2 separate regions of the Homo sapiens genome follow, and region 2 is linked to region 1. Evidence: fine-mapped expression QTL. A gene starts in region 1. The other region holds a variant in brackets. All regions are shown on one strand. Distances are from middle to middle.

Region 1 (8,326 bases):
CATCATGGTGAAACCCAGTCTCTACTAAAAATACAAAAATTAGCTGGGCATGGTGGTGGGCACCCATTATCCCAGCTGCTCGGGAGGCTGTGGCAGGAGAATTGCTTGAACCCGGGAGGCAGAGGTTGCAGTGAGCCAAGATTGCACCACTGCAGTCCAGCCTGGGCGACAGAGCAAGACTCCATCTCAAAAAAGAAAAGAAAAAAAAAAAAAGAAATGCACATATATATACACATATACGTATATTCACCAGAAGACTAATACTAGAATGTTGGTAGCTGCACTGTTTTTTGTTTTGTTTTGTTTTTTGTTTTTTTAGACAGAGTCTCCCTCTGTCGCGCAGACTGGAGTGCAGTGGCGTGATCTCTGCTTACTGCGATCTCCGCCTCCAGGGTTCAAGCAATTACTCTGCCTCAGCCTCCTGAGTAGCTGGGACTACAAGCACATGCCACCACACCCAGCTAATTTCTGTATTTTTAGTAGAGACAGGGTTTCACCATATTGGCCAGGCTGGTCTTGAACTCCTGACCTCGTGATCGGCCCACCTCAGCCTCCCAAAGTGCTGGGATTACAGGCATGAGCCACCGCACTCAGCTAGCTACACTGCTTTTAATAGCCAAAAACTTGAAACAATTCCAGTGTCCATCACCAGGAGAAACGATACACAAATCATGGCATATCACACAATGGAATATGATCAAGCAGTAAGCGTGAACAAATGCTTGCTACATGAAACAACATGGATGGACCTCACAGACACAAGCTAAAGAAACCAAATAAAGAAACCAGGTAAGATAAAGAAACCAAATGGGTCATGTTTACATGAAGTACAAAAATGGGCACAAGTTAAACTAAAGCATTAGAAGTCAACATAATGGTAGCCCTTGGGAGGAGAGGGCCTGTGGCAGGAGGAACAAAGGGATACTTCTGTTTCCTGATCTGGGTGCCAGTTACATAGGTAGGTTCAAAATTTATAAAGCTGTACACTCGTGATCCATGTATTTTTATTTATTTATTATTTATTTTTGACACGGAATGGCACAACCTCGGCTCACCGCAACCTCTGCCTCTCGGATTCAATCCATTCTCCTGCCTCAGCCTCCCAAGTAGCTGGGATTACAGGCATGCGCCACCGTGCCTGGCTAATTATTTTTCTATTTAGTAGAGATGGGGTTTTACCATGGGTCAGTCTGTTCTCAAACTCCTGACCTCAGGTGATCCACTCGCCTCCACCTCCCAAAGTGCTGGGATTACAGGCATGAACCACCACACCCAGCCTCGTGATCAGTGTATTATTGTACACAATTATACTTCCAATAAATATGTTTACTAATTTTTTAAATAAGACCTTATTTTGTTCCCATTAGGAAGCCAGATTTAACAGGACACATAAGATATATCCACACCTGTGACTTATTCCTCACACCCACATTACTTAATCCACACACACAACTATTACAAATACAACCCGTAAGTCCAGCTTTCCTTAGGGAACAAACTAAGCACACATTTCTTATTTATTTACTGAACTTGTGTCTTAAAGCATAGTGAAGCTTTTCTTTTTTTAAGCACGTAGCCTGGCATACAAAAGGAAATCATTAAAAGTCTGATAGATGAACAAAAGAATGAACAATTGAACAAAAGTAAATATCTCATCTCGGGGGCCACCAGCCCTCTTTTTTTTTTTTTTTTTTTTTTTTTTTTTTTTTTTTTTTTTGAGGCAGAGTTTCGCTCTTTTTGCCCAGGCTGGAGTGCAATGGCACAATCTCGGCTCACTGCAACCTCCACCTCCCGGGTTCGAGTGATTCTCCTGCCTCTGCCTCCCGAGTAGCTGGGATTACAGGCATGCGCCACCATGCCCGGCTAATTTTGTATTTTTAGTAGAGACGAGGGTTTCCCCATCTTGGTTAGGCTGGCCTCGAACTCCTCAGGTGATCTGCCCGCCTCAGCCTCCCAAAGGGCTGGGATTACAGGCGTGAGCCACCGCGCCCAGCCAACAAGCCCTCTTTATAATGTTAAGAATGAAAAATAAATGATACTGTAGAATATTATAATCTTATTTTATTCACTTATTCAACAGTAATTAAAGGCACTCCCATGATTTTATGTTGTTTGTTTTAATTCAGAAAAGCTCACGGAGAATCCAGGACACACATTTTCTCGGTGCAGCAAGAGGGCTGTGTCCCCATCTGGGCGGCAGATGGCACCAGAGGATGTGGATCAGCCCTTGAGGTTGTCCTTGCTTCCAGAGATCCTGGAAGCCGGGGTACCCCCTACCCTGCCCAGCCACAGTGAGAAGGGGAGCCAGTCCAGCCCTTCCCATGTCTCCATCTGCAGCCTGAAGAACCTCACCAACAACCGCTAGTGCATGACAGTGAGGATGCCGCCAGAGCAAGTGTAGAAAATGCTGCTGTGCAGCTTGACTGAAGGAGAGGCCCAGGAAGGTGGTTCCCGAGGAAGGTGGCTGATGGGAAAGACATGAGCATAGTGAAATGTGGGTAGAAAGGATGAAGTAGAATGATAGGGGACGGAAAGGACGAGGCGACGTCCCTGCACTTGAGGCATGGGAAGCACAGGTGGAGGGTCAGCCTAGGAGAGGCAGAAGCCTTACCTGCCACTGTCTGCAGGGAAGCTCCAAAGGACAGGCATGAAGGCTGGTGAGCTTGTCGATGGGTGAGGAAGTTGCCTCCAGGTGGCTTCTATTTTGTCTATGAAGCAAGAGACCAAATTGCCTATTGACAAATGATGGTGGAGAGGGGTGTCCTCCGGATTTCCACCATTTATCTTGGCTTCTTCAATCCCTTGCTTATTCATTCTGCAAATATTTATTGATAACCTATTATGCTAGGCACTATTTTGGACTCATTGGACGTGCAGAAGTGAACATAGAACTTACATTCGGGGTTGAGGGAAAATAAATAAACACATAAACATCAAAACCAAAAACATCGGGGAAAGAGAAGGACTATGAAGAAACAGGCAGGATGAGAGAGCAGAGAGTGCGGGAGGCTGTGGAAACAAGGTGCTCAAGGAAGTCTTTTGCTCAGGAAGTCTTCCCAAAGAAGTGACATCTGAGTAGAGATCTGAAGGCAGCAGCAAAGAGCCTTGCAAATATCTGGGGTACGGGGGCATTTCAGTTAAGGAGGACAGCCAGGGTAAAGGGAAGGAGAGGGTGGAGAGGAGGTGCGACCCAGGGAGACAGATCACATAGGATGTTGGAAATCACCTTTGATCGTTAGCATGATGGTTGTTACTAAGAACCAGGGAAGTGGCGTGGCTGGATTTATATTTTGAAAGGATCATGCTGCTGCTGTGTAGAGGACAGGCTAAAAGGGACAGTCGTGGAAAAAGGAACCCCACTTAGGAGGCTGTTGCAGCCATACACAGCAGAGATGTGAGGAGCGGTGAAGGAGGCTCAAAGTCATCAGACTCAGGATGTGTTTTGTAGGGAGAGCCAACAAGATTTGCTGATTGCAAATCTGATGATCAGATGTGGAATATGAAAGAAAAAGGAGTTGATGATGGCCCAGGTGTTTGCCCTGGGCCAAATGGTGGTACCACTTACTCAAATGTGGAAGACCAAGGGTAGATTAGATTTAGGAAGAAGCAGAATTTCTGCTTTAAATATGTTAAGTCCCTGGAAAGATTCTGCAGGCAGTGTTGTTATTTGCTTTGCTTCGGCCAGCAGGTGTGGCTCTGTTTTTTTCCAGCAGCAACTGATGGTGGCCCAGCCGTAGCTGTAGACTGAATGCTGATTGGAATTGTGTCAATTGGCTTTAACAAAACAGGGGGTAAGAGAGTTGAGGGTATTAGAAAGAGACCCAGTGAAATGACAGACCAAATGTAAAACTCCAGTCCTGGAACCAATTTTAATTAGTTTGAACTGATCAGAAGTGACAGAAGCCTAACCCAAACTAATTTGAGCAAAAGAGGAGGAACCAATGGCTCAAGTAACAGAAAGCACACCCAAGTAGCTCATAGAAGAGAAGAAAGAGCTTCAAGGCATAATAAAGTGGCCACATGACCTTGAACTGGGGATGAAAGACAGCTGTGTAACCCCATGTGCCCCATGTATGGGAGTGGGATGGTAGCAGATCTAAGACAAAAGGGAGTAGCTGGGACTACAGTGAAATGGAGAGGGAATACCCAATCCAACGCATTGAAATTGCACAAACACAGAGTTTGCAGAAATAAAATGTGCCTAACACTTTGCATTCTCTGAGAGAGATCCAGGCTTTGAACGTTCTGGCAAAATCGGTGTTAAACAATCACCGCTAGAATCATGGGAAGTGAGAAGACTTTTGTACCTACCAGTCTCAAGCTGAACAGTATGAAACAGGGCAGTGAACGACCCCCTTTTTTAATATTAAATACATAACACAAGATTAGATGTCCTGGCTGCCACCTTAGTAGAGCAACAACTCTGCCTGCGTGTTGATGGCTTGATTGTCCTACACAAATAAGGAGTCTCAACAAACAGCCCAGCCAGTCATTATAAAGAATACAGCCTTCTGTAACTCTACCATTAAGTTTGGCAGACCACTAATTAGACAGGCAATTCTCAAGAACTGAACCAGCAGCCTAACTCACTCTGCACCTTGGAGTTACCCTTGAGCTCACCCCCAACAGGACCTAGTAAGTTAAGGTGACTCAAACTAGAGGTGCTTCACTCCTACATTTGTTTGCAGGAGGGGCAGACACTCCAGGCAGCTCCCAAGAAATAGGATATAACATATTACTCACCTGTCATACAGCAGCAAAGGCAGCAAGAGACAGCGCCTGCCAAATACCCCAGGCCCTTGGAGGACACAGTTCTGAGGTTTGCACAAAGCCACAGCTAAATACCTTCACCTGAAGTCCCTGATGCCCACAGCACGAGAAACCATGCAACCAATTCTCCATAGAACCTGGTGCAGGAAAGAACTTTCCTCTCCTGTGAACTTCTACCAGGCAATGGGAATTTTATAGGAATCATTGGCATGGGTGTTGGCCTGAGCGTGCCACATTTGCCACTTCTGATAGAGCCCTTTGGGTTTCAATCTATGCCAAGTCTATTGTGAAACTTCATCACAGCATGAAACATATCCTGTGTTCCTTGTACGTCATACCTCCTCACTTCTGAATGGCTCTTGCTCTTCCTTGCTCATCTGTAGTGAGTGAGTTTGGTTTTTGGAACTGTCAATCATAAATGGTATCCACATTATGCAATTATTGATGTGGAGGCAGCACACTGCAGGAGGTGCCCCCTCTGGCGCCTGTCCCTGCCTGTGTGTCCAAAGGCTCCCCCTCGGCTTCCTCCCCGGGTTGCTCCCTTCCCCACGAGGTCATGTCCTCTCCAAGCCGAGTAGCCTTGCATGGCCTCCCCGAGGTCCTTCCGAGAACCTCCATTTCCTCTGCTGTGGAACAATCCCAACCCCTCTTTCGTGGTTGCAGATGCAGAGAGGATAAGGGGATACAGGCAATGGAGCTGGTAAACAGTGACATCCTATATTAATTTGAGGTCACTGCTTATCACCAGGCAGCCAGTGGGGCCTAAGAGGGCCCCTCCTCCCTTTATCTGCTCTCAGATGTGTCATCTCTGCTGCAAGGAGGAAATTAGCTGGGCCAATATGACCATGTTTTGGAATGGGAGAATGGAGGGAGGCATTCTCAGACTCTTGAAACTTTCTTCCATGTATAACTTGATGCATTTTTACCAACGTGTATGCCCATGCAACCGCCACCCAGATCAAGATGTGGAACACTTCCGTTACCCCAGGAAGTGCCCCCATCCCACTCCTGCCCAGCCGCCACCCCCAGCCCCTCATTTCCAACACAGTAGATTAGTTTTGCAAGTTCTTGAACGTTACATAAAAGAAATCATATAGTACATAGCCTTTTGTCCGGCTTCTTTAACTCAACATAATGTTTTGAGGGTTTTTGTTGTGTTGTTGTTGTTGCTGTTGCTGTTTTGAGATGGAATCTTGCTCTGTTGCTCAGGCTGGAGTGCAGTGGCATGATCACAGCTCACTGCGGACTCAACCTTCTGGGTTCAAGCATTTCTCCCACCTCAGCCTCCCCAGTAGCTGAGACTATAGGCACGCACCACCATGCCCAGCTAATTTCTGTATTTTTTGTGGAGACGGGGTTTCGCCTTGTTGCCCAGGCTGGTCTTGAACTCCTGAGCTCAAGCAATCCACCTGCCTTGGCCTCTCAAAGTGCTGGGGGTACATGAGCCATCATACCCTGCCAACATAACATTTTTGAGGTTAATCCATGTTGTTGCAAATATCCATTCCTTTTATTTATTGCTATATAGTATTCCATTGTGTGAGTGCACTGGAATTCATTCTACTGTTGATGGACATCTGGGCAGCTTCCAGTTTTTTAGCTGTTAGGGTCCATGTTACTGTGGACACATTGGTATATATGTTTGGTGAGCACCTGCACGCCTTTCTCTTGGGTGTATACCCAGGGGTGGGAACGCTGGCAAGCACATGGCCAGTTTTAGCTGACTCCGCCACAGTCCCCCAGTGTGGTCGTACCACACCCACTCTCTCCAGCAATGGCCTTAAGCTTTTTTGGTGGCACCAGCCTCTTCTTTTCATCATACAATAGAACGAGCCTACACCACGCAGTCAGACAGACTTCAGCTCATGTCTCGGCACCTCTGAGCAACCCTGGGCAAGTTACTTAACTTCTCTGAGGTTTCACTTGCCCACAGGAATAAATAAAGCCTGAGTTGGCATCACTGTCAAATCAGTATCACATTCACATGGCATAGTGCCAGGCAATTGGCACTAAGTGAATATTCTCTCCCTCCCTCTTACCCACCCATGAAGCTCCCTGAAGTGCAGTCACCAAGTAAACATTTCCAGACCTTTCACCCCACCATGGAGTCCTTTAAAATTCCTCTGCCTATACACTGAGAACCTATTTATCACTTTCTTCCCCGATACTTATGTGATGGGGCTGCTTGTCTCCATCCCACTGCAGTGGATGGGGAAATCCAACAACTGAGGAGTCAGAAGCAGACAGCAGACTATGAGTCATGGAAGGTAACAGGTAATAGAAGGTGGCTTCCATAAAGTGACCCTGGGCCAGGGAGGAGACAGACATGCTTTGACCAAAGTAAGGTCCAAATTTACATTGTCTGCTTATGTACCATTACAGAAAGATGTCCAAGACATATTGTGGGTTTTTTTGATTTTTTATTTGTTTTTCTGTTTGTTTTTGAGACAGAGTTTCACTCTTGTTGCCCAGGCTGGAGTTCAATGGCGCGATCTCGGCTCGCTGCAACCTCCACCTCCTGGGTTCAAGCAATTCTCCTGCCTCAGCCTCCCGAGTAGCTGGGATTACAGGTATGCATCACCACACCCGGCTTATTTTTTGTACTTTTAGTAGAGACAGGGTTTCACCATGTTGGCCAGGCTTGTCTTGAACTCCTGACCTCAGGTGATCCACCCGCCTTGGCCTCTCAAGGTGCTGGGACTACAGGTGTGAGCCACCGCGCCCAGCCTACAGGACATATTGTTAACTAAAACAAGCAAAATCAGGACAAGATGAATACTTTGGTGCTTTTGTATAAAAAGGAGGGAGAAGAGTGTTTTTATATTGACTTACATCTAGGAATGGATACCCCTAGGGCTGTGGGAGAGGCAACAGTGACTGGGGACACTGTGAGAGGGAACATTTCAGTGTATTGTATCCACGTGGACAGCTTTTGGGCTTAAACTACATGAACAGATCATCTATTCAGACAATTTTTCATATATAGGCTGGGCATAGTGGCTACGCCTGTAATCCCAACACCTTGGGAGTCCGAGGCGGGTGGATCACCTGAGGTCAGGAGTTTGAGACCAGTCTGGCCAATATAGCAAAACCCCAACTCTATTTAAAATAGAAAAATTAGCTGGGCATGGTGGTTCGTGCCTTAATCCCAGCTACTCGGGAAGCTGAGGCAGGAGAATCGCTTGAGCCTGGGAGGTGGAGGTTGCAGTGAGCCGGGATCATGCCACTGCACTCCAGCCTAAGCAACTGAGTGAAACTCCGTCTCAAAAAAAAAAAAAATTCATATATATATTTAGACATTTTTCAGTTATGCCAGCAGGTGGGTATGAATCCCTTGATATAAGCTCCATGAAGATTTCTGGCAGATCAACCCTGGCAAAGCAAAATGTCTGTGAGGTTTGTGCATGTAGGTGTGTGTGCGTAAGTGGATGCAGGTAAGCATGTGTGTACGTGTGTCTGTGTGTTAGACATCTCCATCACAACCTACCAGCCTGGGCAATATAATGAGACACTCTCTCTACAAAAAAATAAAAATAAAAATTAGCCAGGCATGGTG
Region 2 (8,326 bases), 32 kb after region 1:
TCAGATTCCAGATCTTGCAGAGGTAGGCAAGCTCCATGCCCCCTCAGCAACCAGAGATCTGCTGGGAGGACTATGCCACTCCAGATGTTCCTAGAGAAGATGAACTGCCCAGCAGCAGCCTCTGCCACTAACCAGTGTGGCCTTGGGAGAGTCTGTTAGCACTTGAACCTCATTTTCCCCATTTGTCAAATGGGGAAAATCACCCCTACCCTGAGAGAGGCCAGCCCTGACTCCTGAACCTATTCACCAGCCTCCTGTATCCCCAGCAAAGTCTACTGCAGCTCCCTTTAGTGGCCCTTAGGATAAGACCCCATGGTCTGGATTCCCTCCCTGTGAGCAGGACCTAACATCCCAACTCTGAATTCCCCTCCAGGAAGTCATCAACCACAAAGGTGTAAGAAAGACCAGGCCCAGAACAGTGGCTCATGCCTGTAATTCCAGTGCTTTAGGAAGCTGACGTGGGAGGATTGCTTGAGGTCAGGAGGTTGAGACCAGCCTGGGCAACATAGCAAGACCCTATCTCTCCAAAAATAAAAATGTAAAAGTTAGCTAGGGCCGGGTGCGGTGGCTCAGGCCTGTAATCCCAGCACTTTGGGAGGCCAAGGCGGGCGGATCATGAGGTCAGGAGTTCGAGACCAGCCTGGCCAACATGGTGAAAACCCGTCTCTACTAAAAATACAAAAATTAGCCAGGTGTGGTGGCACGTGCCTGTTAATCCCAGCTACTTAGGAGGCTGAGGCAGGAGAATCACTTGAACCTCGGAGGCGGAGGTTGCAGTGAGCCAAGATCACCCCACTGCACTCTAGCCTGGACAACAGAGCGAGACTCTGTCTCAAAAAAAAAAAAAAAAAAAAAAACAACTTAGCTAAGGCATGGTGATGCACAACTGGAGTCCCAGCTACTCCAAAGGCTAAGGTGGGAGGATCACCTGAGCCCAGGTGTGTAAGGCTGCAATGAGCCATGATCATGCCACTGTACTCCACTATGGGCGACCTTGTCTCTAAAGAAAAAAACACCACAGAGCCGGTCACTGCCCTGGTGAATACGTTGGTGCAAGACTGCCCTTGGTAACAGCAGACCAGGCCACTGGCAGGGGAGGGCCAACAGGCGATGGTGCTCACAGCTGCCCGCTTCCTTAGAAAAAAAGTCTCCTGACACAGCCGAAACCCAGAGAGGGAATACTAGCTTCAACACCAAGGTATCAGCCCTGTTTTGAGGCACCCAAGTCACCACAGCCTTCGGCGAACCCCAGGAAGAGACACTTCTCTTACACACACACACACACAAATCATGAAAGCATATTTCCTTATGTTTCATTTGACGACCCAACTTAATAAATAGTCCTATCCTTTGGGAACACCTTATAGTACCACAGCTTTCACACAGGTCCTGGGGTCTGACGCTGGCTTTGAATACCAGTCATTTGAATCCCCACCACTTATTAGATGAGTGATCTAAGCCTCAGTTTCCTCATCAGTAAAATGGGGATAAAGTGTGCCTGCCCCACAGAGGTGTGTGACAACGCATGCAGATGGCTTATCCCAGAGCCAGATGTGTAGCAGCAATAGTCCTTATGTTTTCCTACAGGCCCCAGTCTGCACACTAGTGGTAGTCACTGCAGGGAAGATCGGGCCGGGTGACAGGCAGGGGTGGGGATGAAGGAAGCCCAGCCAGTAGACAGATCACAGATCCCCCTGCAGAATGATTCCAGAGCAGGGCCCCAGGCCTCAGAGAGAGCCACCCTACCCCACAGAGACACTGTTATGGAATGACAATGGGAAGAACAGGGGATCAGGATAGAAGGGTCACCCCACTATCCTACTTGGTAGGGGTGCTTGGAGCTCCCAGGCTAGGGTTGTGAAGCTGCAGGTGCAACAACAGGACAATTTATGTGGCCACCAGCCTCTAAGATGCCCCTCAATGATCCCTACCTCCTGGGATTCGTGCCTTGGTGTAGTTCTCTCCCAAGCTGACCATTGCAGCTAACAGGATATTGCAGAAATGATGGAATGTTACTTCTGAAAGTAGACATAAAAGACACTGTGGCTTCCACCTTGCTCCCTTGGGCAGCTTACTCTGGGAGAAGCCAGTCACCATGTGGGGAGGACACTCAAGCAACCCTGGGGCAGCCCACAGGGCACGGAACTGAGCCCTCCCATCAACAGCCAAACCATCCTGCCAAGCATGTGAGCACACCATCTTGGAAGCAAATCCTCCTGCTCCCTTCAGATGACTGCAGCGCTGGCTGACACTGTGACTGCAACCTCACTAGAGACCCCGAGCCAGAACCACCCAACTAAACTGCTACCAAATTCCCAACCTACAGAAACTGTGAGCATAATAAATGCTGACTGCCATTTTAAGCTACCAGTTTTGGAGTCATTGGTTAGCCAACAATAGGTAACTAAGAGTCAGCATCTCTCTCTCCCCAGAGACTCCCCAGAGTGGAAGTCCCCAGGTAAACACTCCCCCAACCAACCCCTCTCAGGGCCTCAGACCCCGCTGTTCTGAAATGCAGAGCTAGGATGAAGTGGGCAGGGAGCCTGGCCCAGGCCCTACAGCTTATAAGGCCCAAGAGACAGGAACTTCTCCCAACCAGTACATTAGACTCACCTGGAGATTTTTACAAATAACCCCTACCTATACCAGGTCATCTAAATTAGACTCTCTGGGGTGGGGCCCAACCATGTATTTTTTTTTTTTTTTAGGGACCTACATGATGCCAATGTACAGCCAAGGCTCAGGTTCCAGTTGCAGCCTCCTGGCCAGCCCACAGCCACTGAGGTCTGACAGTGCCGGAGAGGAAGAGGCAGAGACAGCCACAAGGCCAGGCAGTGCCCAAGCTCCCTCCACCCTGGGCTTAGGCTTGGGTCTCCCTCCACCCCGCTGCTGCCCAGCTCCCAAAGCCCTCTGCTCTCCAGGCATACAAAGCACCTCAGGCCACACAGATGTCCTTGCCCAACCTTGCTCACACACCGACACACACAGCCGCATCCTCCCCGTCTTTCTCTCTGCATCTCAACACCCTCTGCAGGTCCAACCTCTGCGCTGGGACTGCTCCCTTGGAGGACAGGAGCCAGGAAGCAGGAATGGGGTCTAGCTCTGAGTGATCTTGGAAAGACCGTTTCCTCATCCGCAAAATGGGAATGACCATCACATCTGTTCTGCTCTCTGCTGGGTCCAAGCCTCCTCATCAGAAGTCCTTAGAGAGACCTATATTTGTATGTTTTGTCTCCCCCAAGATGCACCCTTGCCTGGCCCTGCATCAGCCCCTGGAGATTCCGCAGCAATGGATTCAAGAGACAGGGCCCCCTGCCCTGAGGCTCACAGCCAGTGAACTCAAAGGTACAGAAATAAGGATCATGAAGAATTCAAGAGACAATGGGAAGGAAGACCTAATGGAGGGTGGAAGAGGGGGTGGAAATTCCCAGGAGAGAGAAGTGAGCTCCACGCAGGGAAACTGCACGTGCAGAGGCTCAGAGGCACTGCTAACAGTATCATCTCTCAACGTGTGATTCCAACACTGTCCCTTTTCTCTCTCTCCGGGAACTCACCTGGACTGGCTTGGAATCCCCTGGTCCCACACTATGCACTCTCCTGAGCTTCCTCCCATGACTGTGGCAGCCGCCTCACCCCGCCCTGGGAGTTGGGAGTCGGGAGTGGGGAGTGGGGAAGCCTTCCAGCGTCAGGTGGGGAGAACACACCTCCCGCCTCCGCTCAGGGCCTGCCCCAGCCCCACCCGGGCCGCCCTGCGCTTCCTGGGCAAGTCAGCCATGCAGGTTGGCTCCCCGAGGCACCCTGGGGAAGGGCAGGAGGCACACCTGCCAGGAGGCACACGACCTGCCGCCCAAGGCACCAGGAAGGGGGCGGGGCAGGCACAGGCGCTGGAGACACACAGGCCCTGCCACCCGGTGGCTGCCGCCGTGAGTGGGAGTCTGGATGGGCACCGGGCAGGCGGGGGGCACGTTCCCGGCCTAGGGTGGGACCAGTGCTAAGGAGACTGGAGAAAAGCACAGACAGGGTTTGTGAGTGAGCCCTAAGGCAGGGACGGGAGTAGCAGGGGACAGATTTTTCGTTCATTCAAAAAGGTTTCTGGAGGGCTACCTGTGCCAGGCACTGTCCGAGGCACTGGGGATACTGCAACACCCAGACGCCTCCCCTTAAGGATCTGTCAGGTCAGGGAAAAGCAGGGCGGGGAGACAGGAAACTAACTGCTTGCACAGGGGCGTCAGGGAAGGCCTCCTGCCAAGGCAACTCTGCGGCAGAGGAGGTGCAGTGCTGTGTCA[A/T]CCTCCTGGGGACTTGCTGAATGGCAGGATGTGGGGTGAGGGCAAGGGCCACATCAGCATGACCTGGGTGACCAGGCATGACACCGCTGGGACAAACCCAGACCAGTTCTAACTGTGTCAACTGGTCATCATCTTTGCCCTTCACAACAAGCTGATGGGGTCAGAAAAATGACAGAAGCCAAATACCTCAGTGCAGGACTGCAGAGGGGAGGTCAGCCCAGGGGTCTGATTATTAAGCCCAGTTCTCTCCTCCGGGCTATCAGCAGGGTTGGGAGAGCTTCTCCAAGCCGCCTGCCATCACAGGGCCAGGCACACCCCCAAACACAGCCCCCTGCATGAGGCATCACCTGCAGGCACGGCCCTGACGTGAGTCAGTGTCCCCAGCACCACCCAGCACAGAGATCCACCCATTCTGCAGCCTGGGCACTTGACACCTGGGAGGTGTGAGCTGGCAGCTGAGGGGGTGGCTTCCCGGTGGGGCTTCTCCCCTATCCCTGCCAGGAGCCGCAGCCTCACAATTCTGGGGTGAAGGAGAACAGCTCAGTCAGCACTTTCCGCTGACTCTTTCAAAACCACTTACAAGAACTGAGGCCTGTGAGCTCAGCCGGGCGCAGTTCCCCCTCAGCGGCCCCTCGTGACTCTGCACAAAGCCCAACTGTGCTTCAGCTCCAGCCCCGGGGAGGGGGTGGGGTCTCCGGCAAGCCCATCCTGCCTCCTGAGCCACAGGGTCCCACTCTGCCCAGCCTGGGACCTGTGCTTTCTGCCCACAAAGAGACACGACAGCCCCAGTGTCAGAGCTGTCTGAGCCGTGCTGGATCCAGGCAGCCTTCCTCCCTGAAGGTGGAGACGGGCCTTCCTCCACTGTAAACCCTTTTCCAGCACAAATACCTCTCTTATGGTGTCCACACAACGTAATTTATCATAGAGCCAAGGTGGCATGCATGATCACAAAACGAAAAAAGGAAAATATCCAAAGAAAAATCGAGTCACCAGATGAACCTCACAGCAAACCTCTATTTTGCCCCTCCTGTGCCAGGCCCTTTGCTGGGCACTTTCCATTCACTGCATCCTTTAATACTCATAAACTCTCTGCTGCCCATTTTACAGATGAGGAAACAGGCCCCAAGAGGTTCAGAGGCATGACAGACGCCACCTGGATGGAGTGAGGGGCAGGGCAGGGCAACACTGCTCAATCCCTGCTCCGACCTCAGGCCCCCCTACTCAGCCTCCCCAGGGGTGCGGCAGGCCCGAGGACTGCCCTGGCTCAACGATTCTCCCATCTTACTCCTCCCCACATACTGATATGCACACACTGTGCCAGGCACTTGGGGCTGGCAGGAGTCATCTCAAGGCCTGATGGTTCACTCCAGCTTCACTGCCAAAGCCTGGGGCTGCCACCGGGAAGCTACCTGCTTTCTGGCCTGGGCGCTTAGTGGGGTCCCTGCAGGTCACCCTGGTCTCCCTGCCCCATGCAGCTGGATTAGGCTTGCCAGGCACTAAACTAGCCAGGCCTCAGTCCTTCACCCTCGATCTCCTCCTCCATAAATAGGGCCAGGGACAAGTTCTAATTGCATTGGCCAGCACAAAAGAAAATTCAAAAAGCAAGTAACTCATAACTGCCTCTAGACGGTCCTCGATCACTGGCCCGAGACCTTCCCCTCCTGGTGACTTCAGGGTACATTAACTGTGCTCTCCTAAGAAGACCACAGGATTAACCAATAAAGCACTTTCCATAGAATTCAACCATGAAGCACAGTCCCCCACCCACGCGAGGGCTGGAACCAGGTCTCAAAAGCCACTGGGGTTCATTTCAGAATGCACACAGGGGCCATGCGCCCATGATTTCATCCATAAGACCCCTATGAAGTGGAGACGCTGAGTTTGGACATAAACATATTCTTTAGGCCCTTTTGTGGAGTTCAAAGAGAGAATAACTCACTAGCTTTTGAAGCATCAAGAAAGGTCTGTTCTTAAAATCCTATCATCATTGTTATCACTCTATTTTTAGCTGAATACACCTGAGATACAGAGTGCAGTGCCAAGCATTTTGTGTGGAATACCTCAATCCTCACATCAATACCCCCATAGTACAGAGGAGGCAACTGAGATTCAGAGAGGTTCCACAGCCTGCTATCAGCCTGCCTCTAAATTTTACTTAGTAATATATTAAGCCTCAGGCCTTGCTCTTTTTAAAATCTAATGAAGAAGCAGCTGGGCGCAGTGGCTCACACCTGTAATCTCAGCACTTTGGGAGGTCGAAGTGGGCGGATCACTTGAAGTCAGGAGTTTGAGACCAGCCTGGCCAACATAGTGAAACCCCGTCTCCACTAAAAATACCAAAATTAGCCGGGCGTGGTGGCAGGCACCTGTAATCCTAGCTACTTGGGAGGCTAAGGCAGGAGAATCGCTTGAACCCAGGGGGCAGAGGTTGCAGTGAGCCAAGATCGCGCCATTGCACTCCAAGAGTGAAACTCTGTCTCAAAAACAAAAAAAAATCTAATGAAGAAGTCAAGTTCATTATCTTTCCTTGAGTTACTTTTTAAACTCCAAACCTTTTCAGATTAACTCTCAAGGTTTTGCATTGTGTATGATTTTTTTTTTTTAATTTTCCAAAATAAGAGAGAGTAAAAGGTCCCTGTGTGTTTAACATTTAAAGGCATCATTTAAAAATATTTCCTAAGAATATATGCCCCTTGGTGGTGCTGGGTGTCTCCTGCTTGAGTCATCCTAAAATCTAGCCAACTCAGCCTGCAAGGAGTATCACCACCACCCGCCAGGATCAGAGGTGCGCTGGCTGAGCTGGGCTGTCCCGGAGATCTGGTTATGGGTGGGGAGCAGTTGAAGGTATGAGGACAGGCTCTGAGAGAGCCATGGGGTTGACGAAAGGGCATCGAGACAGATGTCCCAGAAACTGAGTGAGACCCATCATGCCTCACTCAGGCCCCCGGGGCTGCATGGGGAAGACAGGACCCATGTGTCTGCCAGGGCCTAGCACAGAGTTGGCAGGGGTGGCTAGATTCTTTGTTCTGTTTTCTAATAAATTGCAACTCACTTCCAAGTTCTTGTTCTTCTGACTTTAAGTCACACCTTCCTTAATGCCGTCCCTCAAGAAGCAGGTGGAGAAGAAGGGAATCTGGACTAAGGGGTGCTGCAATGCCCCCAGCTAGGCCACCATGCTCCACCTGAATCCAGATGCTTTTCCTCATCCTCCAACCTCCCAGCCCCAGATTTAGAGAGCACTGGGCTCCTACATGCTTGAGGAAGAAAGACAAAGGGGCAAAGGAGGACAAGAGAGGGGAGCTAGGGCTGGGTAGGAAAATCCACTGAGCATGCCCCACCAGGGCCTTCGGGTCAGGTCGGAGGGCCAATGTTGCCCCACGCACCACCGTAGCTCCTCCTGGGTATTTAAAATACCACACCCCGACCGGCGCTGTGGCTCACACCTGTCATCCCAGCACTTTGGGAGGCCAAGGCGGGCGGATCACGAGGTCAGGAGATCGAGACCATCCTGGCTAACAAGGTGAAACACCATCTCTACTAAAAATACAAAAAATTAGCCGGGCGTGGTGGCGGGCGCCTGTAGTCCCAGCTACTCGGGAGGCTGAGGCAGGAGAATGGCGTGAACCCGGGAGGCGGAGGTTGCAGTGAGCCGAGATCGCGCCGCTGCACTCCAGCCTGGGCGACAGAGCGAGACTCCAACTCAAAAAAAATAAAAAATAAAAAATACCACAGCCCATCTCCCCCACCTGAGCTGCTGAACAAAGAGCCTCACACCACAGAGGAAAGGAGGTGTGGCAGAGGCGAGGCAGGGTAGCCTCACTGACTGCCCTGAGAGTCTGAGAATGAGGGTCACGTCCGCAACTTGGCCCCTCCCCCAGCTTCATGTCCATGAAGGGGCACAGCACCGCCCCCTCCCACAGCCCACCATCACTCACACCCTGCCTCATGTCTCACTAATGCACTGCTCTGATCACATCACTGCCCTGCTCAAAACCTTCTGTGGGCTGCCACAGCCCAGTGAACGAAGGTAGTCCCTGATG

Direction of the effects. Alleles are on the strand shown, and positions count from the first base shown. SD is a standard deviation of normalised expression in the study named.
As copies of A replace T in region 2, the expression in monocytes after Pam3CSK4 of the gene that starts at base 4,900 in region 1 goes down (large effect, 1.1 SD a copy in Quach 2016).

What was found. PIP is the estimated chance that this variant, and not a neighbour inherited with it, causes the effect. A credible set is the group of variants that fine-mapping cannot tell apart.
Region 2: its variant is the best candidate, but not a certain one, in a credible set for the expression of LINC01433 in monocytes after Pam3CSK4 (Quach 2016, PIP 0.88).

What each region holds. Positions count from the first base shown.
Region 1 is chr20:4,189,664-4,197,989 of GRCh38, reverse strand. It overlaps LINC01433 (long intergenic non-protein coding RNA 1433), which reads right to left and starts at 4,900. Exons shown (of 3, transcript NR_033917.1): 1 at 4,744-4,900; 2 at 2,612-2,708; 3 at 2,037-2,464. RefSeq lists a silencer at 2,573-2,754.
Region 2 is chr20:4,157,581-4,165,906 of GRCh38, reverse strand. All of the region lies in intron 1 of SMOX (spermine oxidase), which reads right to left. It overlaps LOC124904861 (a long non-coding RNA gene), which reads left to right. Exons shown (of 2, transcript XR_007067504.1): 2 at 2,709-7,344. Among named protein-coding and RNA genes, the nearest start is that of SMOX, 13 kb to the right of the region's middle. RefSeq lists enhancers at 4,210-5,143, 7,770-8,270. The variant A/T (reference allele first, on the strand shown) is at 4,287.